Homo sapiens: one gene and its partners. The protein of the gene in region 4 interacts with the protein of the main gene of each other region in a pairwise test. Each region holds a gene or a part of one and is shown on either strand. Other genes may lie near its edges.

Region 1 (6,897 bases), on a different chromosome or scaffold from region 4:
CTCTTCTCACCAGATAGCTGCATTGAAGGGTCTGGTGATACTCTTAGTTTATCTCTCCACTGGTCTGAGTCATGAACTTGGAATCATGGGAGAAAGTCAGGAGGCTGAGGTGGATTGAATATTCCCCACTAACCTCCCCTCTCATTCTTCTGCCCCTCTGCAGGCCTAGCAGTGGCCCAGAAGAGTTTTGCAGCAATAGGCAAAGACTATCCTATCTAGATTTTATAAACTAAGAGGAGTAGTAGCAGAGAGAATAGAAAAAGCTACCATACCAACTCAAACTCAAAAAGAACACCCCTATCTGTTCTGTCAGTCCTCAGCTTTCAGCCCAGATCCCGGACCTAAAATGCTCTCCACCTGCTTCAGGGTTGGGCATGGGGAAAAGGATCAGTCTTCAGAAAGAAGGCTGCCGTAGCTAGGCCAAGCTGGTGACATGCCACTTGGCAAGTTCTTGGGTCCTCTCCTGGGCCCAGAGCCCACATGGCCAGCTCCAAGGGGCATCATATGGATTTAATGTAAAGGGAAAGATCTAAAGCACAATCAGCAGTACTGGCTTCTGGGTCCTAGATCTCCTTCCCATCACACACCTCACACATCACTGGCCCAGAAGACAGGGTCTCCTAGGTGCTCAGGGCTGGGGCCAGCTCAGAATGGGGAAAGCCTTCCTTTAAGGGTCAGGGCAGCCTGATCTGCACAGGCAGATCTCCAGGAGGGCGTACACCTAATTCCTGGGAATCACCCATGGTGCTGGGGCAGGGGGTGTTAGATCTAGCCTCACTCCTGTAGAATGGGCCTGGACGCTGAGTACAGCTGGGTGGGCCCACAAGGGGTGGGGCCTAGAAATCTAGCCAAAATGGGGTACCCCAAACAAGGGCAAAAGTCAGTTCTTTGTAGAGCAGAAGCTCGAAGGAAATGCTCAAAACCGGGGGACAATAAAAATTCCAAAAGGACAGGATTTGGGGCCTTCTGGGCCTAGGCCAAGGTGGATAAAACATGGGCCCTGGAGGATTTGGGGATGGCAGGAATGGTGGGGGGAAAGGATGTATTATCTAGGGGAAGGAATCCTTAGGCCTGTCTTACCCATCCTTCCCATCTCCTCCACCTCCCAAGGGTAGTTCTGTCCAGAGCAGGTTAGGAGGTGAAGAGCAGGCTAGGTAGGGGTGGTGGGGAGGAAGGCTGGTGCAGAACTGTGTGCGGCCTGGTCGCCGGGTACCTGGGTCTCGGAGAGGTTAAGCTGCCGGGCGAGCTCGGTCCTCTCGCGGCCCACCACGTACTGGCAGCGCTGGAACTCCATCTCCAGCCGATAGAGCTGCTCCGCGGTGAAGGACGTGCGCGTCCTCTTAGGCCGGTCCAAGTCCAGGCCCTTGGGCAGGATGATCTCTCGGATGGACCCCTTGGCATCTGGGGAAGGGGAGATGTCAGCCGCCAGAACCCTCCCGTCCCCCTCCACCTCCTTGGCCCGAGCTGGATTTGGGGACACAGTCCCCAGAAGCGTGCAGTTTTGGGGATGGGGGGCGGGGTGCGGAGCGCGACCACAACCAGGTAGCAAAGACACTGTGTGGAGGGCAAGGGGCCTAACTCCATACCGCTGACCGAAGGAGGGACCACACTTTGTCTTTTTGTAGAGTCCTCCAGACAGGGGAGAGAAAAAAATCCAATCAATTCCACATAGGCGGACGTTTCTTCCGGCCTGGGGGGGCCTCGGCTGAGCCTTCCGGGTCCCCTGTAGCCTGAGGGTACCCTTGTCGCCCCGCCCGGGTCCTGCGGGCCCCAGCTCTGGGCTTGCCGACCAGACCGTGATCCAGACGTCCCCACCCCCACCCTCGAGTCTCCTTCCCTCCGGAGTCCGCGCGGCGGAAGGAGGAGGGACTGAGTCGGGGCCGGCCGGGCCCGGAGATCTGCTGCTGGCTGGGGCGGCGCCGGGCCGGGGCCCGGCCTCGCAGCCTCCGCCGCCGGGGCTAAGTGCACGCCGCGCCATCCGAGAGCGGCAGAGCAGAGCACCAAAGCGGCAACCGCGGCTCCGTAACCAAGCCCAGCTGCCTCTCCCGGCGGCAGCGGTCGGGCACCGATCGCGGCCGTGGGGTCCTCGGCCCAGTGCACTAACTGGCAGGGCCGTAGCCCGCGATCGGCAGCTGTTCTCCGGGGCTCGCGTTCCCCCTTGGGTGCGCTCAGCCCTCCAGAGCGCGGGAGTCCCCTGGCCGGCTCCCGGCAGGTCGTCCGGCCCTTGGAGCGCGCACACCTCCTCCCGGAGTTTTCTGCTCCTTTCCCGGGTCGGAGGCCGCAGCCCGATGCCCGGCCGCACCCGCGCAGCCCCTCATCTCCCCCCGCAGCCCGGTCAGCGGGGCCCCTCCGGGCGTGGAGGGCCGAGGCCCCTGGAGAGCGCACCGGAGAGTCCCAGGCGCTTGTCCCCAGCCGGACTCGGGGCGGGGAGGGCCAACAACTTTCTCCCAAGTCCCAGCCGGCACTCCTTCCCACCGGCCTGTGTCGGCGGCAGCGCGCAGCTCCGGCCCCGGAGTCGACCCCAAAGAACGCGCCTGGCAGCCCTGCCCATCCCTACCTCGGACCAGGATCCGGCGGCAGTAATCCGGGTCCGCTGCGGAATTGGATTTACTTTTGTTACAATCCTCAGCAGCGCCCGACGCTGAGAAGGCGCCCTGCGGCTCCTTGAGGAAGGCGGCTGGGAGGTTCCCCTCCGCGCCCTTGCTCTCCCGACTCTCCTTGTGCGCGTTCTTCGAGACCCGGGCAGCCTCGGCGTCCGAGTGGCATCGAACGTCCATTTTGTCTGGTTTCCCGAACATAGGCAAGAACAACAACAAAAACAGAAAGGAAAAAAAAAGCAAAAAAAAAAAAAAGGGGGGGGGGCGGAGAAGGAAAAAAAAAAGAGGAAAAAGGGGACAAAACCCCCGACAACGCGGCCCGTACGCCCGGCCCGGCGACAGGCAAGGGGCAAGAATGAATGTCCCCGCGGGGAGGCTTCGGCGGCCGCGCGCGGGTCAGCGGCGACGGGAGAGTGGCGCGCTCGCCGAGAGGCGGCCAGTCTGGTCCAGGATCCTGGTGGAGCTGCGGCGAGGCCGCCTCGTCAGCACCCGCGTCCTCTGAGCACGTCCAGTGTCCCCAGCCTGGCGATCAGGTAGCGAACAGCGCAACTCCGAAATGCTGCGGCTCCCGCCTGTTTCTGAGACGGCGAGTTGTAGTTGTCCGACACCCGGGGGGACGCACACTCGCTGTTGCAATTGATTACGGGTAATTTCGCAGCCCCCACGTTTCGGTTACCTCATGAATACACTAAATTGTTTGGATAATATATCAGATCGTAATGGATGGTTTCTGTCCTTGTCCCCAATCAAGTAGGGGTTTAGCCAGTGAATAAACGGAAATGATTGGTCTTGCTTTCAGGAAACACACAATCAAAGACCCACACTTCCAGAAAAACTTTTGACAAGATTCATCCTGAATTGTTAGTACCATTAGCAGGCATTATTAACTTTCCTTTTGCCTTTGACCCTCCTGCTCACATACTGGCTAGAGGGGTTTTCTCCACACTCGCCAGATAGAGCTGAATGAGGGTTGGGCGGCGGGGGGGTGTGGGGGGAGAAAAAAAAAACCCTGCGCACCCTGCGGCAGAAGAAAGCAGTTGTCTGGGAGTGGGGGATGGGGGACAGAGCGGGGGGAGAAAGTTTTCCCAAAAAGTATCTCCCTTGCACTCTAAAAAAGCCAAGATTTTCCCCTAAACAACTCCTTCTTAACACACCTCGACGCAGACAGCCATCTTAAACTGCCACCTCTCTTCATTTAGTTCCAGTTGGATTTTTTCATGCCTGCACCTCCAGCAGCCCTGAGGCAGCCCATTCAAAGGGCAGCTTTGTACTCAGAGTCCAGCAGGAGAGAGAGGGGGAGAGGGAGAGACGGCCGAGAAATCTCAACTGTGAGATCTGCTTCAAAAAAAAAAAAAAAAAGTTTTCCCCTAGCTATTTCATTGTCTCTGCTACAATATCTTTGAGAAAAGCAACAGCCAGTAATCCAATAAGAGCATTGATTAGGCTACAATGATTCAATTCAAGCGCATGGCCTTGTGCAAGGAGCATGCTCCAGCCCTTCTCGTCACCTTGCCGGGGCAGAAGCCCTCTCCACGCCGCTCTCCCCATTCATTCCTTTATGGGAAATGCGGAGCAAAAGGAGTGAAAGATGGCAATTATCTAATTGGACTATTAACAAACAGTCCTCTGAGTGCGGCGGTCTGGCGTGGCTCCTGGGCGGGGGAAGGGCCGTGTTCCCTGCCCTCATTCACAAAGAGTGCAGGGGCCGGGGAGGAAAGGGGTTTTTTAAAGGGGGTGGGTGGGGGGAGAGGAGAGGTGGGAGGTTTGGCTGAGAATTTTTCCACACAATTCCAAGAATGGGGCGGAGGCGGGGGGAGGGGAGGGGGTTGGGGAGGGGGTCGCGGCGAGCGGGTGGGAGGAAGGCCGGGAGGGGGAGGGGTGCGAGTGTGTGTGGCGGGCCCCTAGGGGCTCCAGCTCGCAGCGACGCGCGCACCGTCCGCACCTCCCGCCCCGCCGCCACCTCCCCTGCCTCCGCCGCCACCCCGCGGGACCCCTCTACCGTCCCAAGCCAGGAGGGGGCCCCCTGAGCGGGGTCTTTCGCGCTGTCCACCCAGCCACCCCTCCAGCCACTTAGGGGCACCCAGGTTTGGCCCAGCTCCGGAGGGCATCTCTGGCCCTGCAGGCCGACATCAGGCTTCCACTTTAGTTGACTGGGCGGAGCGGTGGAACTGTCCCGAGCTACTCTCCGCAGGGCGGCGGGTTTCCAGGGTCCCCAGCGGGCTGATCGCCCCTCAGCCCGGCTTCGCTGCGCACGCTGCCCTCGAAGTCCGACGCCGACTGGGCGCCCGGGGAAAGTGCCTTTGATTACGAGCTCTGCTCCGGCGGGTTGGTGAGGCGGGTGGGAGCAGAGACGGGTAAGAGGGGTAAGGGACTTTGCGGCCACCCTGTTCTGAAGATGTAGAGTGGGATTGTGTTAAAATCCGGCGAACTCTCCTGTTACCTCCCGCAACGCTCAAAAGCCCAGACTGGCGCCTTGAGGCACCGAGGGCTTTGCTCCCATGCGGCCAAGCCGTCGGGGGTGCAGCCGCCGGGTCTTGACTCCCACTACCGCGTCGCGGGTGCGGGTCCCTGGGATTCGGGTCCTCCTGATGGGGGTCCCTGCAGCAGATGGGGCATTCACTTCCCTGCAGAGCTCGGCCCGAGGGAGCTCCTGGGCCTCCTTGGGCAGGGAGGGGTGCGACCGAATTCCCTGGCACACCGGCCCTTCCTTGCCCCCTACCCTGGAGGGGTTGGAGGGGTCGGACCCTCGGACTACGCGAGATCGGGTGCGCAGGAGGATTCTAGGCCTTCCTCAGCCCTTTAGGAGCCCTGCAGGCGGCGGAAGTCCCAAACCGCAGCCTTGGCCCAAATGGGACCCAGATGGCTCTGGGTCCCCGGCCCGGCCGCACCCCTCTGTACGGCCTCCTTCTGTCGGTGAAGGCCGCAGCGGCCTGGGAAACCCATGCGGACACCTGCGGCGCCCGGTCAAAGACCTGGAAGAAAGCTTTTTAAAAAATAAAAATGGCCCAACCCATTACATTTTCTTTTAGGTAGATGGGGGAGCTGGGGGGCGGGGCGGGGGCAGTCAGGGAACAAACAGCTGCCCTTAGAAATGACACGCCCTGTGGGCAATGGCGGCGCTGGGACGTCTGCAGCCGCATTCACTGCCACAGAGAACGGCCAAAGTATGGCCAAATCCCAAATGCAAATTTTAAGTTTGGCCTCGGAAATTTCTGCCCTCCCTCATCTTGTGGCATATTTTGTTGTAAGGGGGAACTATTTGTTTGTTTGTTTGTTGTTTGTCTGAGACGGAGTCTCACTCTGTCGCCAGGCTGGAGTGCAATGGCGCGATCTACGCTCACTACAACCTTCGCCTCCCGAGTTCAAGAGATTCTCCTGCCTCAGCCACCTGAGTAGCTGGGACTACAGGCGCGCGCCACCACGCCCAGCTAATTTTTGTGTTTTTATTGGAGACAGGGTTTCACCATGTTGGCCAGGATGGTCTCGATCTCTTGACCTCGTGATCCGCCCGCCTTGGCCTCCCAAAGTGCTGGGATTACAGACATGAGCCACAAAGCCCAGCCTGTTTGTTTGTTTTTTAAACTTACTTATTTTTGAGACAGGTTCTCGCTCTGTCGCCCAGGCTGGAGTGCAGTAGCACCATCACGGCTCACTGTAGCCTCGAATTCCCAGGCTCAAGCGATCCTCCCACCTCAACCTCCTGAGTAGCTGGGAGTACAGACGTGAGCCAACGTGTCCAGGGGAATTATTTATGAAGCAGTCACTTACTGGATGCATAAACTCACTTAATCTGAACTCCTCCTTCAGAGATGTAGTAATATTCCGGTTTTATAGGTGAAAGAATGGAGACTCAGAGAGACGTTCAGTAACTTGCCCAAGTCACACAGACTGGTATGAGCAGAATTTGAATTGACTTCTGCCTGACTTCAAAGCTATTTATGCTCTTCTTTGCCACACCCCACAAGACTGCCCCATTTTTAGTTCCAAACCCATACTTGCTTTGAATTTTCCAAATCTTCAGGTGATCATGTGTGTATCAAAAAGACACAGAGCAATGACTTTAATGTTAATGCGAGGAATCCTTATTATTAGACATCAATTTTCACAAATTTTATCTAAACAACAGTAAGTAGAAATGGAATCATGAAATTCTTGTTTCTGATGATGCTATTTATTTCTGGCCATGAGCATTTATTAGGAGTTTATCACTCATCTACTAGCTGATTGGGGGTGAGTAAAAAATCATTTCCTGGGTTTCAAACTTACAGAATGATCATCTGAGAGCAGTGTCCAGGAATTT
Region 2 (7,024 bases), on a different chromosome or scaffold from region 4:
TGCTCTGTGGATGAAGCCAGGAAGATGTGGGCCGGAGCCCAGCAGTGCTATTTCAGAACTTCTAGCCTTTGTGAGGATACAACAAACACAGAGAGAAGCAGAGCCGTGACAATGATATTTGAGCTCCTGGACTCAGCTATTCCTGGAGCTTGGCTCTTGGACTTCTCAGGCTTTTTTTTTTTTTTTTTTTTTTTTTTTTTTTTTGAGACACTGTCCTGCTCTGTTTCCCAGGCTGGAGTGCAGTGGCACGATCTCAACTCACTCCAACCTCTGCCTCCTGGGTTCAAGCAATTCTCCTACCTCAGCCTCCAGAGTAGCTGGGATTACAGGCATACACCACCAGACCTGGCTAATTTTTTGTATTTTTAGTAGAGATGGGGTTTTGCCATGTTGGCCTGGCTAGTCTTGAACTCCTGGCCTCAAGTGATCTGTCCACCTCGGCCTCCCAAGTGCTGAGATTACAGGTGTGAGCCACCGCGCCTGGCCTGATGTCTCAGTTTTATGGGCTAATACATTCCATTTGGGACTATAAATTGAGTTTCTGTCACTTGCAATTATCAAGAGTTCTCAGTAATATTTTGGGAGACTTTTCCAAAGTCACTTAGCAACCCAAAGGTGCACCGGGGGCAGGAACACAAAATTCAATACCCATGTTCCTTTCAGAATAAACTGCTCTGAGGCCGGGCACAGTGGCCCATGCCTGTAATCCCAGCACTTTGGAAGGGCGAGGTAGATGGATCACTTGAGGTCAGGAGTTTGAGACCAGCCTGGCCAACATGGTGAAACCCCCTCTCTACTAAAAAATACAAAAATTAGCCAGGAATGGTGGCATGCATCTGTAATTCCAGCTACTCAGGAGGCTGAGGCAGGAGAATTGCTTGATCCCAGGAGGCAGAGGTTGCAGTGAGCTGAGATCATGTCACTGCACACCAGCCTGGGCGACAGAGCAAGCCTCTGTCTCAAGGGGAAAAAAAAAAAAAGTATATATATATATATATATATATATATATATATATAGATTTATAAGTAAATAGTAATTTGATTTATAATGAAGAGGATTAATACTAGTTTTATTAACTTCATGATGCCCCCCACATGCCGGATGCTGTCAGCCAGGTGGGAACGAGAGTGGCACGTATAGGCCTCTTACCTTCCTCTCCGCTGTCCCCCCGGTCGCCGTCGTGTCCATCTTGGCCGTCTTTGCCAGGAAAGCCCATTCGTCCCATCATTCCTGAGGGCCCTGGGGCTCCTGGGGGGCCGGGTGGGCCCTGGGGGCCAGGCAGGCTGCAGACCAGTTGAGGGGAGCCTTTCCGGAAGTCCCTGCGAGCAAAGGCGCCAAGCAGTGGGTCAGCAGCACAGGGGAGGGCACAGGCCAGGAGCACCCAGGGGATCATGGTGGTTACCTGTGGGAGGCAAGAGAGCTGTGACAGGTGAGTGTGGCCACCAAGCTGACCTGGGGCTGGTCAGAGGGGATGCACAGGAGGAGGCAGCTGGGATACACTCAGTTGGATTTCTGTCTCTTGCTCTTTCCTGCATCACATACAAGTAGATGTGATGTGGACAGAGTCGTCATATCTTGAGGACATATTTGGGTGAGTGGAGTCATTACCCAGAATACACTTCGAAGGGGTCTCGGGGGTGAGGCATTCATCATCAGACCATCATCTTCCAGAGTGGCTGAAATGGATGCAGAACTTATGACCCAGAGACTGATGACTGGGAGGAGCTGTGAATGGAGAGAAATGATCCATGGTTTCATCCAAATCTGTGGCATGAATAGAAAGTTACAGTTCTACAAGGGTAATGTTTGAATTGTAGGTGACTTTGCAACTAGTCTGCTTCTCATGGGAGACTCAGGGTTGCACATGAGGAGGGCTGAGGATTCAGTTACTGAGTGGAGGTCAACCATCACCTGAGTGACCCTGGCAGGCCGTGGTAGCAGCTCCTCCCCCAAGCGCTTCCTGTGCGCCAGGCATGTGCTAAGAGCTTTCCATTCATTACTTGATCTTCACAATACCCTTATAGAATAGATACAGGAGAAGAAGCGGAGGCTCAGAGAAGTTGAGCAATGTGTCTACATCACGCTTTTCCAACCCGGGGCCTGTGGGCCGCATGCACCCCAGGATGGCTTTGAATGCAGCCCAACACAAGTTTTGTAAACTTTCTTAAAACATCATGAGATATTTCTTGCGATTTTTTTTTAAGCTCATCACCTATCGTTAGTGTATTTTATGTGTGGCCCAAGACAATTCTTCTTCCAATGTGGCACAGGGAAGCCAAAAGATTGGACACTCCTGGTCTACATCATGCGATGAGTAGATGGCAGGGCTAAGGTTTGAACCAGGCTGTCCAGATCCAGAGCCTGTGCCCTCCTGTCCCAGGCTAGACCGTGTCCTTAAGGCTGATGGCAGCAATAGCACGATCCCACTGGAGATCAGTGTGCTATGCACCTGGAGGTATCTACTCCCTGCCCTCACTATGCATACGCAGAAACTGAGACCCAGAGCAGAAATAAGCAACTTGCCCAAGATCTCTCAACAAATCAGTTCCTTTGCTTTGTAATTAACAGCCTCTCTCTCAAGAATGAAACCAGGAGGGGGAACATCCCAGGCATGACTTCCTGCCATGGCGATTAACTATAAAATGGCAACTTGCTTTGTGACCTTAGGCAAACCCTTTTCCCTCTCTGGGCCTCAGTTTCCTCACCTGAACAACAGGGGCTGGGCTAGAGCAGTGGTTCCTAAACTTCAGTGCGCATCACACTCACCTCGAGGGCTTGTTAGCACACAGGTTGTTGGGCCTTATCCCCAAAGTTTCTGATTCATTAGTTCTGGGGTGAAGCTGGACCATTTGCATTTCTAATAAGTTTCCAAGGGATGCTGCTGATGGTGGTCCAGAGACCTTGTTTTGGGAACCACTAGAGTAGATGGTCTCTAGGGTCTCTTCTAGCTCCAATGCTGAGCCTTTCAGACTTCAATCTGTTCTCTTTCCAGATACAAAGCACTGTGGGCTTTGTAGTCCTCACTCAGCCTGTGGCTATCCAATCAGAGCGTTTAAGTATTAGGGGGATCCTCGGCAGCTGTGGTCCTGGTTGCACAGCAGGGGCATTACTCAGGCATTGACCTTTGGAACTCATTTTTCCTTCTGGGCTTTCAATCCCCTTTCCCTTCAGACTCTGCTTGGCCCCTGGCTCTTGGAGCCTGTCCAGGCTTTTCGGCTGCCTCTGGCTGTTCCCCTCAGAAACAGGCTGACCATACCTCTCCTCCTGCCCCCTCCAGGATCTTTAACCCTGGAAACAGATGCTGAGGGGAAGGCCTAGACTTGCAGAGAAAGGAAAATGTTCATTGCCCACATCCCAGCAGTGTGACAATCACAGGGCCCAAAATGGTTACTCCCAAAGAGCCTGCAAAAGGCCCCCATGGAAAAGACAGCTTTAAATGTCTGCCAGGCACAGAGACACAGAGCAGTCTAGGCCCGCCCCAGTCGTGAAACATCTAGAAATCCTCCTCCTGTCCCTGTACCTCCCCTCCCTTCAACTTGGAAACAGGTGAGCTGACAAGGGGAGCAGATGGCCTTGCCCGTTTCACACCTTCACTGGGGGAGCAGGAAGAAATCTCACCTTCGAATGGAAATTGAGGTGTGGGTTGCCTGGGAGTGGAGACTTCAACCAGGGGGAGGAGGAGCTCCCCTCACTGACTAAATTATAAGTAGGGAGGGGTAGGCAAAAATAAGGATGCAGTTTGATTGTATTTCTGATGTCACACTTGCTCAACCTAGGTTGGATAAATAATAGTAGAGATGGTAGGCAGGTACGGCAAACATCATGGAAATGTTACATGAATGACAGGTGCTTTTGGAAAACTATGGCCTAGACACTCCCCAGGCCCTGTGAATCACCATTTCTTTCCCTGTCTACGTTAGGAGAGTCTTGGAAAACTGGTTGGCCTTATTTGTGAGCTGCAGCACATCTGGGACCCCCAGAATAGAAACTGAATTTTTAAAGCAGGTTCGAAATGATTTGGAAAGTTGCAGTCTACAACCATTTTGCAGTAGGGAGAGAAGGAGGGAGTAAGTGGAAGCGAGTCTTCGAGGCAGATGAGAATCCTGCAAACAGCTAGCTGAAGACAGGCAGAAAAGAGAGCCAGCCGGACGAGAGAGAGGGAGAGAGACTGGCAGAAAAGAGAGCCAGCCGGACGAGAGAGAGGGAGAGAGACTGGCAGAAAAGAGAGCCAGCCGGACGAGAGAGAGGGAGAGAGACAGGCAGAAAAGAGAGCCAGCCGGACGAGAGAGAGGGAGAGAAAGGGAACCATCTGTCACAGCTGACAACTCCCCTCTCTCTTCTGACCTCCATGCCCAGCCACACAGGCTCCACAAGAGGAAGGCGGATTTGCTCTCTTGCCCACAATGGCCTTGCACCAGCTTCTCTGGACAAAGAGGGAATGCCTGTCTGCGAAAGCTGGTTTGGGGCAGGCCCCAGTGCCTGGGTGGAAGGGTGTGTGTCTGAGACACACAGGGAGGAAGCGTTTTCTGAACTGGAGCCTGAAGCTCCTGGAGTCCCAGAGGAGTCTTGGGAGCTAGAGCCAGGAACTGTTTTGGAAATAAAGGCGGGGAGACTAGATTCTAGTTCCAAACCTAGAGGAAGGGAGGGAGAGGAGAGTCTCCTTGCCTCCACAACACCTCCAAGAAAAACAAGGCTACAAATAGCCCTGCTCCCAGCTTGTGCCCTGCCCCACCCTCACCCCACTCTCTACACAAGGGTGTCGAGAAAGCCTGGGGGGCAGGGTGCTTAGAGGGGCACTAAAGCCCCAAGGAATCCAGGCAGATTAACTCTTCCAGGGCCTTTCTTTAATTTTTTTTTTTCTTTTTAGGGATGGGGGTCTTGCTCTGTTGCCCAGGCTGGAGTGCGTGGTGCAAGAGCTTACTACAGCCTTGAACTCTTGGGCTCAAGTGATCCTCCTGCCTCAGCCTTCTGTCCCAAGTAGGTGGACCTACAGGAGTGTGCCACCACTCTCAGCTAGCACCTTTTAAATACATTTAGAATCAAGAACTTGGGGAGGGCCTCAAGGAACCATCTAATCCAACCTCTTCAGTTACAGATGGGGAAACCAAGGCAGAAGCAAACTGACCTTATTACGCACCTACAATGTTCCAGGCACTGTGTGAAGCCCTGTATCTACATTGCTTTTTTTATCTCACTTTGTCGCCCAGGCTGGAGTGCAGTGGCGTGATCTCGGCTCACTGCAACCTCCACCTCTCGGACTCAAGTGTTTCTCCCTCCTCAGCCTCCCGAGAAGCTGGGACTATAGGAGCGTGCCACCATGCCCAGCTAATTTTTGTATTTTTTGTAGAGATGGGGTCTTGCCATGTCATCCGCTGGTCTCAAACTCCAGTCCAGCGATCTACCCGTTTCAGCCTCCCAAAGTGCTGAGATTACAGGCGTGAGCCACCGCATCCAGCCTGCTGCATTGTTTTATACAAAGCTTACTAGAGCCCTATGAAGCTTACCTGAGCCCTTATTGTCCCATTTTTTTTTTCAGAGGAAAAAACAGATACTCCAAGAAGTGAAGTTATTTACCCAGAGTCACACAATCAGGGATTAATGGAGATGGCATCCAAACCCATGTCTGTGTGCCTCTGAAAACTATGCTTAATCCATGCCACCTTGCTTCCTGCCCCTGCTATTTTCCCCCCATTTTATAAAAGACATTGAAACTTGGAGAGGCTAATTTACTTATGTTTACACAAGTAGTTAGTGGCAGAAGTTATATTTGAACTTGGGTTTGGCTGATCCTAGTACCCAAATGCTTTCCATTATGTCAGCATTTCTTATATTTTTCCCCCTAAATATTCCACATTACAGAAAAGACCTTGAAGCATATGCCAAAACCACACACAGCCATAGAGAAATCTCTCTGATGCCCTGTATTTTATTTTACAATTTTTACACACACAGTACATGACTTTGAAAACGTACAAGTGATGCTTTTTCTCTCTCTTGGGGTGCTGGAGTAAATCAATGCTTGAGCAAAACCTCCTGTCCTTTGAGAGGCCCACACTTGGATTAGACAAGGTGATGAGAGGCGTGGAGGGGACAGCCTCCTGGGCCCTGGGTCCCCACCATAAGCCCCTCTGGTGTGTTAATGGGGGAGTTTCCAAGGCCTGAACCAAAAGATCAGGGTGTCACTCCCCAAGACCCTCCAATAGGTGCTGGCTTAAAATAGCAAACATCAGAACCCAGGCCATGGCTTACAATGCCCCAGTTGAGCTGGCTCTAGCCCCTGCCCCAGCCTCAGCTCCTCCCTGGCTCCCTCGGCTCCTCTGGCCCAGCACCCACCCCCCCTACCTTTTCTAGGCCAAGCTCCATTCAGCCCCAAGGCACCAGCCACTCCACCAGTAACCTCACGGCTCCACCCTCTTGGTTTGCTGGCTCTTTATCTGCTGTATTTCAGTTTAAATGTCACTTCCTCCAGGCATTCCCTGATGTGCCCTCTCAGCCAGCGCCCGCTTTCTGCAAGCTCCCTTTTCCCAGCTCTTTGTTTCTTTTCCAGCACTTGAAACCACTCACCCATATTCACTTTACTTGGTTGCCTCCCCCATGTGTCTCCACTAAAATGTAAGCTCCATGAGTACAGGACCCCAGCTGGCCACCTGGCTTCAAACTTCCTCACACACAGTGAATGTTCAAGAAATATTTGCTTAATTAGTAAGTGTTGGAGACGCAGACTCTGCCCTCAAGAAAATCCACAGCGAAGAGAAAACCAGACAGTGGCTGAAATCCAGAAGAGAGAGCACTGACACCCCTTGATACAAATCTGTTCTTTTTTCCTCTGCTTTTCTAACCCGAATCAGATCAAATCCCTCCTTGCTTTTGACCCCTTACAGTATAGGGGCTAGGTTGTTCCCTCTCTGGCCCCTAGGGTGGGGCCAGCCTTGCAGAATGCCTTAGATAGAGTAGGTGCTCCATAGAGAGCTGTCCAATTAACCAGAAGAGAGGTAAGTATTAGTCCTTTCTCACCTGTAAAAA
Region 3 (7,024 bases), on a different chromosome or scaffold from region 4:
TGGCAAATACCTCAAAAATCACTTAAAAGAGGCATTTTAAAAATTCAAAATATAATTTGGTCAACACCTAATTACCAGAGACCTTTTCATTTCTGCTTATCCTGAAAGAGGAACACAATAACTGAGCCCACATATTTAATCTGCATGTTTACTTTTCAATAGAGCAAATGGCCACTAGATTAAGGCAGTAGTCATGTCAGATTGTAACCAAATTGTGCCACACCATTCTATTTATCCATATTATTGTATGTATTAAGTCACATACACACACAGAAAAATTTATCTTTCAAGTCTCTCTCACCATAGGAAAAGATTCAAATTTGCAATCCAGACAGGGAAATGGACAAGGTAAGTGACTACAACCCACTCGGTACATTCACAGACTATTTTTTGTTTGTTTTTGAATAAACAAATACATCCCTCAGTCCCCCAAATTGTATTAGACTTACACTAATGAGTAAGCAACATAATAATTATTTACTAAAGAATACAATCAGATGGATTTGACTAAAAACAAAAGTGAGCAAAATACCTAGGAATAACTAAACCTGGAATAAACTGTCCATGTAAGTGAATTTATCCCCAAACTGCCGGTACATAGTGGCCAAAAAGCAATTTATATGTATTTTTAAATTATGTATACACATCTCATTCTAAAAAAGAACCTGCAGTGGTTTACGTCACAAAAAATCTGGTAGACTTAAATGATTCTTCTCCAGGATGCAGTCTTGACCTAAAAGTGAGTCTTTCTTTCTTCTTGGATAAACAAAATGTTACTTTAAAAAAAAAAAAAAAAAAGGCATACCAAGTTTTTTAAAACTTAACCACTGAGTCTTATGAAGTGTAATAGCCATATCACACATACCTCAAAGGTCAAAAATAAAAGCAAAATTAATCAAAGGAACTGAGAGCTCAACAGCTCCCAATTTTTTTTACATTCTCCTACTTACCAATTTATCATTTTCATTGGGCATTTCAAATACGCATCTCAATTTGGAATCCATTAATTCATCAGGTTTTGCCTCTTTCCACTAAAAATAAACAAAACCAAACATGAGACATAGGAGGTATGATCATGGTAAGTAAGTTTCACCTCACGGGACAGCTAAAAGATGAGTGAAGCTGCCTGGCTTGGCTGAAACACACTGGTGCACTCTTTATTGATCACCCTGCCATTGTTATCGGCTAATGTCACAGAACCTTTATATAATCCTAGTTACTATCACCATCCATTAAAATCACGATGATATTACTAGCAACCATAGGACTTTCTTCTTAGCATTTCTTTCTTTTTTTCCAGTTGGTCTCATTCTGTTTCCCAGGCTGGAGTGCAGTCGCCCCTCCTGGGCTCAAGCAATCAATCCTCCCATGCCTCCTGGGTAGCTGGGACTACAGGCGTCCAACACTATACCCAGCTCATTTTTGTTGTGGTGGTTTTTTTTGTTTTTTGTTTGTTTGTTTGTTTGTTTTTGTAGAGACAGGGTCTTGTCATGTCGCCTGAGCTGGTCTCGAACTCCTGGGCTTGAGATACTCCCATCTTGGCCTCCCAAAGGGCTGGGATTACAGGTGTGAGCCACTGCACCAGGCCAGTAGCAGCATTTCTAAATTGTTTCTAAAAAAAAATACTATTTAAAAATTCTTTCATTCTTTAAGTTAGGATTATCTATAATGAAGAAATTGGCAGTTTTTTAAAAACCTAAATTTAACTTTTAGTTTTTAGAAATTAAGTTTTTCTACTGACTGCTAAACAACACCCACAGTTTAAACTCCACTTCCCAAAACAAATTCTTCTTCTATACTTACCACAGCTTCCATATCTGAAGTGTTTGGTGGAGCAAAAATTGTCTGTACCATAAACTTGTGTTTACTCTTTTCATTCGGATCATAGTCAAAGGGCTGTAGCATTACTAAATAAGAAAAAAAGGATATATTATATTGTCTCCTGCATGTCTGAAAGACATACATTGAAACAGTTACAGATTAAATTATACTAAGTCTGGGATTTGCCTTAAACCGTATCTGGCAATAGTATCATTCCTACTACTTCACAAATATGCAAATTTAAAAAAAACCAAGAAGGGTTCAAGAAACCAAACACTGGAATGTTTAAGAATCAACTTAATGGATCCCAAGTATTTTTAAATTGTCTGTCTTTCTAATTTACTAAGTTTTGCACAACCAACAAAATAAACAATTACAATTAAAAATTAAATATGAATCTATGATTTTGCCCTTTCTAAACTCAGCTTGTGAAAATTTTCAAAACTTTGCCAACGTTAACTATAATGCCTATAAGCTCAGATTAAATATAAGTTATTAAAACTATGAATTTAGGCTTCATTTTAGTGTTTTCTGATTTAAAATTATACAACTGAGATATTTAAAGGAGAAATACTCAGTAACTTAAAACCTCACTACCATCTGTTTTTTGTTTTTTAAAACAGGGTCTCACTCTGTGGCTGAGGCTGCGCTGCAGTGCAGTGGCGCAATCTCAGCTCACTGTAGCCTCAACCTCCCTAGGCTCAGGCAATCCTCCCACTTCAGGCTCCTAAATAGCTAAGACTATAGCCACATGCCACCATGCCCAGCTAATTTTTGTATTTTTTTGTAGAGAAAGGGTTTTCGTCATTTTGCCCAGGCTGGTATAGAATTCCTGGGCTCAAGAGATCCGCCCTCCTCAGCCTCCCGAAGTGCTAGGATTACAGGCGTAAGCCACAGCACCCAGCCCATATATTGTTTTAATATAATTAATTTTTCAAAATTGTATTTTAAATAAACATCTATTTCAGAGTTTATGAATTTATTTAAATCTTCTAAGAAAACAAAAGTACACAAGGAAACCATATAGCCTCTTGAGTTCTAAAATTTATTCTACAGTCTCAATAACATTCAAAATTTTTAAGTTTTTTTTTTTTTTTTTTTGAGACGGAGTCTTGCTCTGTCGCCCAGGCTGGAGTGCAGCGGTACAATCTCGGCTCACTGCAAGCTCTGCCTCCCAGGTTCACGCCATTCTCCTGCCTCAGCCTCCCGAGTAGCTGGGACTACAGGCGCCTGCCACCATGCCCGGCTAATTTTTTTGTATTTTTAGTAGAGACGGGGTTTCACCGTGTTATCCAGGATGGTCTCGATCTCCTGACCTCAAGATCCGCCCGTCTCAGCCTCCCAAAGTGCTGGGATTACAGGCGTGAGCAATTTTTAAGCATTTATAATTTCTCGTCTTTTAAGTTTTCTAAGGTTCCATGTGGTTGTAAGTCATGCTAAATTTATGTAACATGAGTCCAATATAACAGACTATACAAAGAATCAATCAACAGTTACACAAAATATGTACATGGCATTATAGAAATTATTTCCCTAACTTTAGATTATTTCTAAGATATATCTCTACACTTTCAAAAAGATAAACACGGGTAAATAAATGTAAGAAATAATTATGTAATAAAGTCTTATTCATAAGGTGTGTCTGAGAAGTCCATTAACTGCTATCAAGGTTAAGACAACTTTTTCAAGGGGCCAAATACACAGCAGCAGGAAATGTACTGGATAAAATGCCTCAGAATACAGCTTAAGCTAAATAAAATTCCATTAGCAACCTTCACTGAGTTAATGATTATAAGCTAATCACTATGAACCAAAAATTTGTGAATAAAACGAAAACTTACAACATGGTTAAGTTTATAGGAGTTATACTCTAATTTAGGTTGCAGACCACATAACAAGACAAAGACGATCTTGAAAACATATATAAAAATGTGCACAAATTGAAGCAAATTCAAAAAACAAAGCGTCAAAAGGACACAGGGAAAAAGAGAAATGAGCATGTAGTACAGAGAATTAACCAGAGAAGGTTGTTGGAAGAAGCATAGCTTTGAGTGACTGTAAATGGAAATACACTACACTAAAAACTGGAAAAGCCAAATTCTAATTAAGTAGAACAATCCAAGGGCATGTTTGCGTAATCAGTAACCAGTTTGTCTGAAGGTTTTAATAAGTCAGGTTTCTGTGGGAGAAAGTGTTTTGATACGTTGTTTTCTCAAGAAATATTAATACACAGAAACCAGCAATCTAGGCCCCTCAAAGAAAAAGTCATTCTGCATAGTTGTATGGATTCCTAGGGATATAACTGTTTGTACCAATAAACTATTTTTAGCCATGTGGATTGAAATAATTATATCTTCTGGCCAGGCGCAGTGGCTCACGCCTGTAATCCCAGCATTTGGGGAGGCTAAGGTAGATGGATCACTTGAGGTCAGGAGTTCGAGACCAGCCTGGCCAACATGGTGAAACCCTGCCTCTACTAAAAATACAAAAATGAGCCAGGCATGTTGGCACACGCCCGTAATCCTAGCTACTCAAGTGGCTGAGGCAGGAAAATCACTTGAATCCAGGAGGCGGAAGTTGCAGTCACCTGAGATCACACCACTGCTCTCCTACCTGGGCAACAAAGCAAGACACTGTCTCAAAAAAGAAAGAATTCTCTCTTCTTCCAATTGTGCTAAAGGCTTAAAGATGTAGTAGAAAGCAGCAACATGCAGAGTGCATGCATTCCTTCATCTTTATTTCCCATCTCTCTTTCCCAGGAACTGATGAATTAGACTTAGCAAAGAAACATGAAAAGCACTCCTCCCAGGCCTCCTTACCGCAAGACTCACTAAAACATCTTTTTCCTAGCTCTTGAGGTTTTTGGCTATACCTGCTGAGGGAAGATTTAGTGTCACCAAGAACTCTATGGTCTGTCCTTCATGGCCTTTGTAGTCAGGCTCCACCTCTAAATACTCTCTCAATGAGCCTACCCTGGGTTCTCTCTCTCTGTACCCAATTCTGCTGTGGACTTGAAAACTGATACAGAATTATTATAATATCTTAGGATTACTTATCAAGATCACCCAGGCTTTTTTTTTTTTTAAGGTACACTTTTTTTGTTTGTTTGTTTTGAGACGGAGTCTTACTCGTGCAGTCTCCGCTCACTGCAACCTCCACTTCCTGGTTTTAAGCAATTCTCTGCCTCAGCCTCCCAAGTAGCTGGGACTACAGGCGCCCACCACCACACCCGACTAATTTTTTGTATTTTTAGTAGAGATGGGGTTTCACCATCTTGGCCAGGCTGGTCTTGAACTCCTGACGTCGTGATCCACCCGCCTCGGCCTCCCAAAGTGCTGGGATTACAGGCATAAGCCACCGCGCCCGGCCTAAATGTAACATTTCTAAGTCATGCTCCTAGAGATTCCAATCTGGGAGAGATGAATCCATGTGTGTTCCTGCTCCCTGTGTTATTACAGCATATAGTGGGAGTTGAGAAGTACTGCTGTAAAGAAAGAGTAAATGCAGCCTGAGAGGTTCTCCCCTAAGTAAAATACATGGAACCATAAAAGTTCTCATATTTACTTCCTATTTCCTATTTCTCAGCTATATTAGTGAAGTCAGAGGGACTGAGAAAGAAAGAAACAGTTTATAGGGGGCATTAGATATGGTACCAGTATCAACTCCACAGCAGGAGTAAGTAATCCATATATGGCAAGCATACTTCTTTGACAAGTAAACACATAAGAGAGTAGTAAAATAAAAATAAAGTTTTCACACACAGGACACTGTTGACATTTACAATGAAAGGCATAAAGACTCATCTGATTTGACACAGTAGGCAAAAAAGTGGCATTGCACCTTTTTAAGCAAAAGAATTATGACACTTCTATAGCTGCATGCAATGTGTAATATGATCATGATCTGAAGGAGAATGACCCATCAGAAAAATGATATAATTTTTCAAAGATAAAATAACAAAGGCAGAGAAGGTAGTGGTTAGCTGTAGAAATAAAGACTAAAGTTTGTAATTGACAATAATTTCTTATAAACTGACCACACTCCCTACACAGAAGATGAGTGAGAAATTTTCTGAAACAGCTTGCAGAGTACTGTAACAAGACATCTTTAAAGGCAAAACCAGAATAATATAAGAATTATTTCCCTCCCTCCAGATGAAACCTTATTAAACAAAAACATAATCATAAAAGGTCAAAATTCAAATGTACATAAATTCAGAACATGATTTGCTACCTGAAACAGTCACAGTTGACCCTGGGTCAATAATTCCACTGTTGGGCCTCACACAGTACCGGCGAGGTGCTGTAGTCTTCACTTTGAAACACACTTTTCTATCCGATGGATTTCGCAATTTAAGATTTGTAGTGACTACATCTGTGAAGGGGCCTGTAAAGTTTAAAAATTAAAGAGAAAACAAAATTTAATTGGATTCTCAACAACGAAGGATTCAAAACTGAAAATATATAACCTCAATTTTAATTAAGTGCTGACATTTGTAGGCATAAATATCCCAAATGGCTACTAACACTGCCTTTCTCGAGGTGGCAGACTTAAAAACAAGTCATATTTTCTTCTTCATTCCCTGTATTTCACAAAATTTCTACCATAAACATGTATGATTTCTATCAAAAAAGTACTATGAAACTTTGGATCTATGAACTTTACAACTGTATTTTTACAGTATGTTGTTAATACGTTGCTGAAAATAACAGAATTTCCCAGTTGTCTGCAAACCAGTGTCAATCTTCAAGTTCATTTTACTAGGCCAACTGCAAAAATCTCTACATCTGAAGACCCTACACCCTATGACATCAGTGCTTTTGCTTCACCTCAATTTTGTTTGTTCATTCATTCAATCCATTCATTCATTCACATATTTGTTAAGTGTTTATTATGCCATATGCTCTAGATACAAAGTTTTTAAGCTTTGGTTCTGCACCCAAACAACATAAAATTACAAAACAAAGAACCCAAAAGGCTGATCCATTTTGCTGAAGAAAAGCCTGAAGAAAAATTATGCAGATTAATTTAGACAACAAAATAAATACCTGTTAATTTGGAGGAAGAACATAAAAACATGTTCCAGTTGGGAACAATAACCACAGTTCTAAGTATTCCAAAAGTAATTTTAAATCGTTCTAAAAACAATTCGTTTAAAGTTATGTATTTTTTAAAAAAGCTAGAAGGCTGGAATCAAAGACAA
Region 4 (7,024 bases):
ACACGGGCACTCAGCAGTGGGGCCGGGCCATGTCCAGGGCCCTCCCACATCCTCCAGGAAGGTGCTTTCAGGGACCTGCTCTTTGGATGTTCAAAAGGACATGTGAGGGTCTCTGGAGAGTGAGGAGAGGACCCAGAGTGCCATGGAGGGACCAGCCGGGGCGACTTACAGACTAGCCCAGCAGATCACACGGCCCGCGTCTCGGCTTCGATCTTCTGCTCCCCGTGCAGGTTCTCTGGGCCCAGCGGCTGCGCCACACTCTGGCGGATGGCAATCTCGGGGCCACCTCCATACAGGCTGTTCAGGTAGGTCCAGGTCTCCTCCGAAATCTGCCCGTAGTCAGCTCCTGCAGGGCACGAGAGGCACCCCTAGGCTCACCTTTGCCTCCTCAAGGAAGCCACCGGCCTGGGCAGTGGGGGCTCCGCAGGGCCAGGCCCCGAAGCGGGAAGACGGCAACCAGGGCTTCTATGCAAAGCTGTCAGATGGAAATCAGGATTTCCCAGAGGAATGTCCATCCCGCTAAGGGCCCCGGATAACACATCTCTGGCTGTGTCCCTTGTTCCTGGGGGTGGGGCTGACATAAACAGCAGGGTGGGCAAGGCCAGCAGCAGGCAGAGGGGTGGGACCTGGAGGACACAAGCAGAGACCAAGCCCCTTGGGCCATCTCTCAGCCGCCTGGGTCTGGACTCAGGTGGACGTCTCAGCCTGACTCTAAGACAGGTGGTAAGGGGGCTCCTGGAAGGACGGGACTGGGCAGCAGCCTGGCAGCCAGGAAGGGCAGAGAGGAGCCTGGCTGACCCCAGGGGGAACTCACCCTGCTTCAGCTGGACATGGCCGCTTCCTTTGACCTGTGCAATCCTGCTGTTGTCAATGGGCCCGGGGGGCTCTGCAACAGACACAGCGGGCTCGGGTTCAGCCCCTGCCATGCCCTCCACCCTCCACAGCAGCAGAGCCATCCCAAGTGGGGCCGCCCCAGGCCTGGGGGTCAGCGTGAAGTCTCTAATGGATGAGGCGCCTGAGCCACCCAATGCTCCTCTGTGGCAGTCTGAGGACCCAGCAGAGGGAATTTCCAGGACACACGAGATGGTCTCAGACTCTGTGCTGGCCGCAGGAGCTGCGGTGGATGGCCCATGCCCTTATCTCTGCTGGCAGCTGCCGCTCACCACGCCCCTTCCCCTCTGCCCAGCTATCTCATTTAGCCTCGGCAACCACAGGACAAGACAGAGGTTTACAGAGACAGAGCCGAGGCCTGGGAAGGTGAAGTAACCACTCAGGTCATAGCTGGTAGAAGGCAAGGCCAGCGTCCAGGCCAGGGCGAGGGCTCCGGAGCTACATTCTCAACCACAGCCATGCTGAAGGCCTCAGCCACCACCAGAGAGGCCTCACGGTGGCCCTGGCACCTTCCCCGACTAGCGGGATGGCAATGAGGCCTCCCTTCCCAAGCACAGGTGGGTGCTCATGCTCCACACCAAGGGTCCCGTGAGCAGAACCGTGGGCTCTACCCACCCTGCCGGGCCCCGGAGCCACAGGTTAGATTATGCCCCGAGGGCGCCCCAGCCGAAATTTTTAATGCAGGTTTAATAGTTTAGAGCCTGTGGGCTTCCATGGCTTGGTTCTGCTGTTCTTCACTGGGGACTTGGGGGACCCTGGGAGCTTGTGATGGGGCCTGTCTCCACCTCTGTAAATCCAAGGAGTCAGATGACAAATCTGTCATTTCGGGCGACACACTCCCCTGAGGAAAGGGCCTTGCAGGAGGGCAGAGCAGCTTGCTGGGCATGGCAGGGAGTGGAGAAGGGCAGGGGGCGCAGAGCAGGAGCAGCTTCCTGCCTCTGGGTGGGGACAGTGATCCCCACTGGGGACTGGCAAAGCCCCATGCTCTCTGTTCACCCTGGATGGGTGGCACCTGGGGGCAGGCATGGGGCCTGCAGGAGCCCCTGTGTGCCAGCCCTCCCCTGCCAGCATCCCATCTCCCAGGAGGCCCCCAGGGCAGGTAAGTGCCAGGTCCCCCCTCAGCTCACCGTTGTCCTTCCCCTTGACGAACGCCTCCCACTCCCGGAACCACTGCATGCTGATGCAGTAGATGACGCCCGGCGACTCCTCGGCCTGGAAGGCCTTGTTCAACTGGCAGGCGGGCAGGGACGGGAGGAGACAGAGGGCAGGTCAGTCTCTATTTACCTTCAGCAAGGATTTCCCAAATGCCCCCGCCCCAGTCCCTCACCCAAGAGTCTTACAAAAACACCAGATACTCAAGGTGAAAAATCAAACCCCCAGACAAGCTCAAACAAAATGAACACACCCATCACTCAGAGAGGACGGTGGTAACATTTTGTGGGTCTCTTCAATAACTGTTTGACCCAACTGAGACCACAAGGGAGATTCTACTTTTTGAGAAGGAATCTCACTCTGTCACCCAGGCTGGAGTGCAGTGGCGCGATCTCGGCTTACTGCAACCTCTGCCTCCCAGGTTCAAGCGATTCTCCCACCTCAGCCTCTTGAGTAGCTGGGATTACAGGTGTGTGCCACCACCTGGCTACTTTTTGTGTTTTTAGTAGAGACGGGGTTTCGCCATGTTGGCCAGGCTGGTCTTGAACTCCTGACCTCAGGTGATCCGCCCACCTCGACCTCTCAAAAGTGCTGGGATAACAGGCATGAACCACTGCGCCCGGCCTGGGAGATGCTAATTTTCTCCGGTTGAATAGAATGTGCCTATCTGCTCAGAGAGGCAGCTCTCCTTCTGACAGGAGCATTTTCTTTTTCGAGATGGGGGGTGGTCTCACTCTGTGCCCAGGCGGGAGTGCAGCGGCGCAATCATGGCTCACTGCAGCCTTGACCTCCTGGGCTCAAGTGATCCTCCCACCTCAGCCTCCTGAGTAGGTTGGACCACAGGTGCATACCACTAGGCCCAGCCCTGACAGTCTCTTTTTCGTTTGTGTTCTGAGACAGGGTCTCACTCTATTGCCCAGGCTGCGGTGCAGTGGCATGATCACGGCTCACTGCAGCCTCAACCTCCCAGGCTTAGGTGATCCTCCCAACTCACTCAGCCCTCCAGGTAGCGGGGACTACAGGTACACATCACCATGCCTGGCTAATTTTTGTATTGTTTGTAGAGATGGGGTTTCGCCATGTTGGCCAAGTTGGTCTTGAACTCCTGGGCTCAAGTGATCCACCTGCCTCGGCCTCCCAAAGTGCTGGGATCACAGGCGTGAGCCACCATGCCCAGGCAGCAGAATCATTTCCTAATGGCCACAAAGCACGGGCGTCCCTCAGTGTCTCTCACCAGGCCCTCCCTGTGAGTGGAACACGTCCTAACCCTGTTAGAAGTAGCGTGGCAGGGAGGGAGTGCGCCAGGAGCCTCGCCTGCACTCAGCTCCCTCACAGAAGTCCCTCTTCTAAACACAGTCACACTTGAGTCCTGGTTTGCACCTTGGTTTTCACTTCCTGCTTTATCTTGGGCAGTCTGTAGAGCCCAGTGGTTCTCACCCAGGGCAGGGAGGGTACTCTGCACCCCAGGGGACCCTGGGCAATCTCTGGAGGTCATTTTGGTTGTCACTAGCACTAGTGGGTAGAGGCCAAGAATGCTGCTAAACATCCTACAATGCACAGGACGGCCCCACAATAAAGAATAATTCAGCCCAAAATAACACAGCCAAGGCTGAGAATGGGATCCATCTACTGGTTCTTTAAGCTCAACAGCACCCGGGCGATGAGGCTTCACTTACTCAAGCCAACCCTCCCACCAGGAAAAGCCCTCCTAGACACCTGGCCATCTAGTTCCCCGCAGAAGACTCCTTTCTTTTCTTTTTCTTTTTTTTTTTTTTTTGAGATGGAGTCTTACTCGGTTGCCCAGGCTGGAGCGCAGTGGCACAATCTCAGCTCACTGAAACCTCCGCCTCCCAGGTTCAAGCGATTATCCTGCCTCAGCCTCCCAAGTAGCTGGGATTACAGGCACCTGCCACCAAGCCCAGCTAATTTTTGTATTTTTAGTAGAGACGGGGTTTTGCCATGTTGGCCAGGCTGGTTTCAAACTCCTGACCTCAAGTGATCTGTTCGTCTCAGCCTCCCAAAGTGCTGGGATTACAGGTGTGAGCCACCATGCCCAGCCTCAAAAGACTGCTTTCAAACTTGCTCAGGGACTGCACAGGATTCTTCTGTCCCCAAGTCCCCAGCTGCCCCAGGCAGAGGCTGGCAGAGCCGCCCCCGCGCCGCCTCGCCGCACGCACCTTGATGAAGGTGTCGATCTCGATCCTCCTGCGCTTGGCCAGTGCCTCGATCTCCACCTGGCAGATGGAGCACACGTACAGGTGGTTCACGGCGGGGCCACCCCCGAATCTGTGCCCAGGGTGGGAGAGAGAGACACGGCCTGAGCGGGGTACCAGGGAGGGGAGAGTGATCACTGCCTTCCACTTCCCCCTCAAGCCATCAGTGCCCCCTCAGCGCTGTCGCAGGCCTGCATGCACCTCTGTGTGAGCACCACAGAGCCTGCAACGGAGCAGCGCGCCCACAGCCCAAGGGAGGTCCTGCTTCAAGGCTGAAGAGCAGATGGCCAACACACTCAGCTGTGCTTCAGCAGATGGCCAACACACTCAGCTGTGCTTCAGCCAGTTTCCTGTCCCTTGCCGCTGGAAGGATCCAAGCGGATTCCCACAAACGACATGTGTCATTCTCCATGAGACAAGTGAAGGCGGCTCTGTGCTGCCCACGTGGAGGCCAGAGTGTGGTGTGGGGTCCTGGTGGCATTCCTTCCCTGCCCTCCCCTCTTTTCCTGCCCAGCTGGGCCCTGGACAGGACGGAGACAAGTTGGCCTCCCAGGCTCTCACCTGTTGTACAGGTGCTCCCAGACGTTCTGGGGCAGGATGACCACCAGGTCGTCGATGTAGTGGTATTTGTGGGGCGGGATGCCTGGGAAGAAGGTACAGGGAGCGAAGCTGTGGCTCGGCCCAGCTGCCCACCCTGCTCTCCCACCACAGGGGGCGCCTCACCTCCGTGGGAGCAGAGGAAGGTCTGGTTGGTGATGGGGCCTGGCTCCGCGAAGGTGTTGAACTTGTTGAGCCACTCGCGGGACACGTAGAACCGCAGCAGGCTGGGCTCCCGCATGGCGGCCAGGGACACCACCTGCTGTCGCTCCCGCATGGCCTCCTCGCTGCTCTTCCTGTGGGGTGAGGAGGGGGCGAGAAGCTGTGCCTGACGGCTGCCACCTTCAGACACATGCAGAGCCCCCATCCCAGTGCACCTCGGGCTACCGGCCCTGTCCACCACCTCCTGGGTCCTTCACGGGTCCTGGACATGTGAGCAGCCCCCTGTGCCGCCAGCCAGGGCCCTGGAGAAGGCTCCAAGCTGCCTTCCTGGGTTCCCCACAGCAGCCAGAGGGCTGTTTCTTAACAATCCAAGTCCTTACTTCCCTGGCTTAATCCAGGCGCTGTCCCCTACACACACCCAGAAGGCCCATGGGTCCCAGGGGACGGGGATGGTGAGGTTCCTCCACCAGGCCTGGCCCAGCGCCCACCTGTAGAAGAGTACGTAGCCCTCGGCGTTCTGCACCACCGTCTCGTGGACTTCTGTGACGTACTGGTCATCAAACTCGTACCACTGCCCATTGATCACGTTCTGGCAGTAGGCGATGTAGTGCCCACCTGCGGCGGCAGAGCAGACGGGTCACAGGGATCCTAGCGGATGGGGACGGCAGGGGAGGGGACATGACTCACTGCCTGCCGTGCCGTGGTGGCAGATGACCGAGAGGAGGTCGTAGGTGGTGATCTGGGATGTGCACTCCTTGGCAAGGAAGGGGCGCAGGTCGAGCCCCTCGAGGGGGAAGGAGACGTGGCTGTTGATCTTGAATGAGTACATCACCTCGTGCCGAAAGCGCTTTAGGTGAATGCACAGGATCTGCGGGGACAGAGAGAGCGCCGGTCATCTAGGAAGAAATGATGCGGGCCCTCGCAGCCTTGCCCACGGGCCCAGGACAGCTGATGGGATCATGCAAGCTGACTCCATTGGAACAAATCCAAGAGTTCCACGTGGGGGCCAGACTGGGCTCGCTCTAAGTCACACAGATCACTCCCAGCTCCACTGCTGAGAACTGGACCCCAAGAGCTGCAATGAGCCATCAAGTTTACCAGTTCTGTCGGCACTACCTTTGAGAAGCCACAAAGCCTCCCCGAGCCACCACAGCCCCAACCTGGGCCCCCTCTGCCAGGGCCCTCTCCTCTTTGCTCCAGCCACACGTGCCTTCCTTGGTGCGGACAAGCCTGCTCCTGCACTGGGGTTTTGTCTGTTCCTTCTGTGCCTTCCATCCACGACGCTGACACCAGCCTACACCCTCCAGGCCCCACTCAGACGTTACTCCTCAGAAAGACCCCTGGCAACAGCCCCAGCTGGACCAGCTCTCCTCCCGCCACTCTGCAGCTGGCAGGAGCCATAGCTGTCTCACTGGGGGTGGTAACCCAGTGTCCCACACACCTGCCTCCCATTGGGCCCTCATACAACATGTTAGACAACATGTGCTGAGGCTACCGAGAGAGGGCACCAAGTCACAGTTGGAAAAATGTGCCCCCTGCCAACCCTTCCCAGAGGTTTCTCAGCCAAAGCTATGGAGTCTCCACGGCCCCTGCAGCACAGAAGTGCCCGAGCAGTGGAGCAGGCTCAGCCCCTGCCTGGTGTGTGCTGGTGTGCATCCCGAGATAGCTGAGGAGGAGGCTGCCGAGGCCACTGGCTCACCTCGGGCAACCGCAGGACTTTGCAGTACTTCACTCCGTTCCGCAGCCTGGGGAGGAAGCACGAGCCAGCATCAGTGTCCGGCATCAGGGCCAGGGGCCAGGGAAGCAGCCCTCCACCCGGCTCCCTTCTGGGAAGGCAGGATTATAGGGGGCTCTCTGCAGGAACCCAAGGGGAATATGTAGGGCACAGAAACGGCAGTTAGGGAGAAGGCGGGGGAAGGCTCACTTACTTCTTACACCGCTCACAGCTGTACATGTTGTCACCTAGGGCAGTAAAACAAAGGGTCAGAGGTTAGCAAGGATGCAAAATG

The links.
Region 1: the proteins of USP20 (region 4) and VAX1 interact in binary tests that used the Homo sapiens proteins (3 or more experiments, as listed by UniProt).
Region 2: the proteins of USP20 (region 4) and C1QTNF2 interact in binary tests that used the Homo sapiens proteins (3 or more experiments, as listed by UniProt).
Region 3: the proteins of USP20 (region 4) and VAPA interact in binary tests that used the Homo sapiens proteins (3 or more experiments, as listed by UniProt).

What each region holds. Positions count from the first base shown.
Region 1 is NC_000010.11:117,135,259-117,142,155, forward strand, and holds the start of VAX1 (ventral anterior homeobox 1), read right to left. Parts: upstream 3,013-6,897; 5' UTR 2,799-3,012; coding exon 2,558-2,798; intron 1,402-2,557; coding exon 1,214-1,401; intron 1-1,213. UniProt on the Homo sapiens protein: Transcription factor that may function in dorsoventral specification of the forebrain. Required for axon guidance and major tract formation in the developing forebrain.
Region 2 is NC_000005.10:160,353,618-160,360,641, forward strand, and holds part of C1QTNF2 (complement C1q tumor necrosis factor-related protein 2 isoform 1 precursor), read right to left. Parts: intron 1,727-7,024; exon of another isoform or gene 1,655-1,726; coding exon of another isoform or gene 1,610-1,654; intron 1,404-1,609; coding exon of another isoform or gene 1,395-1,403; coding exon 1,151-1,394; intron 1-1,150. UniProt on the Homo sapiens protein: Involved in the regulation of lipid metabolism in adipose tissue and liver.
Region 3 is NC_000018.10:9,930,993-9,938,016, reverse strand, and holds part of VAPA (vesicle-associated membrane protein-associated protein A), read right to left. Parts: intron 6,208-7,024; coding exon 6,055-6,207; intron 1,908-6,054; coding exon 1,804-1,907; intron 1,032-1,803; coding exon 951-1,031; intron 1-950. UniProt on the Homo sapiens protein: Endoplasmic reticulum (ER)-anchored protein that mediates the formation of contact sites between the ER and endosomes via interaction with FFAT motif-containing proteins such as STARD3 or WDR44.
Region 4 is NC_000009.12:129,873,435-129,880,458, reverse strand, and holds part of USP20 (ubiquitin carboxyl-terminal hydrolase 20), read right to left. Parts: intron 6,978-7,024; coding exon 6,944-6,977; intron 6,761-6,943; coding exon 6,715-6,760; intron 5,884-6,714; coding exon 5,703-5,883; intron 5,631-5,702; coding exon 5,504-5,630; intron 5,150-5,503; coding exon 4,980-5,149; intron 4,900-4,979; coding exon 4,818-4,899; intron 4,330-4,817; coding exon 4,221-4,329; intron 2,122-4,220; coding exon 2,019-2,121; intron 887-2,018; coding exon 815-886; intron 347-814; coding exon 186-346; 3' UTR 170-185; exon of another isoform or gene 1-169.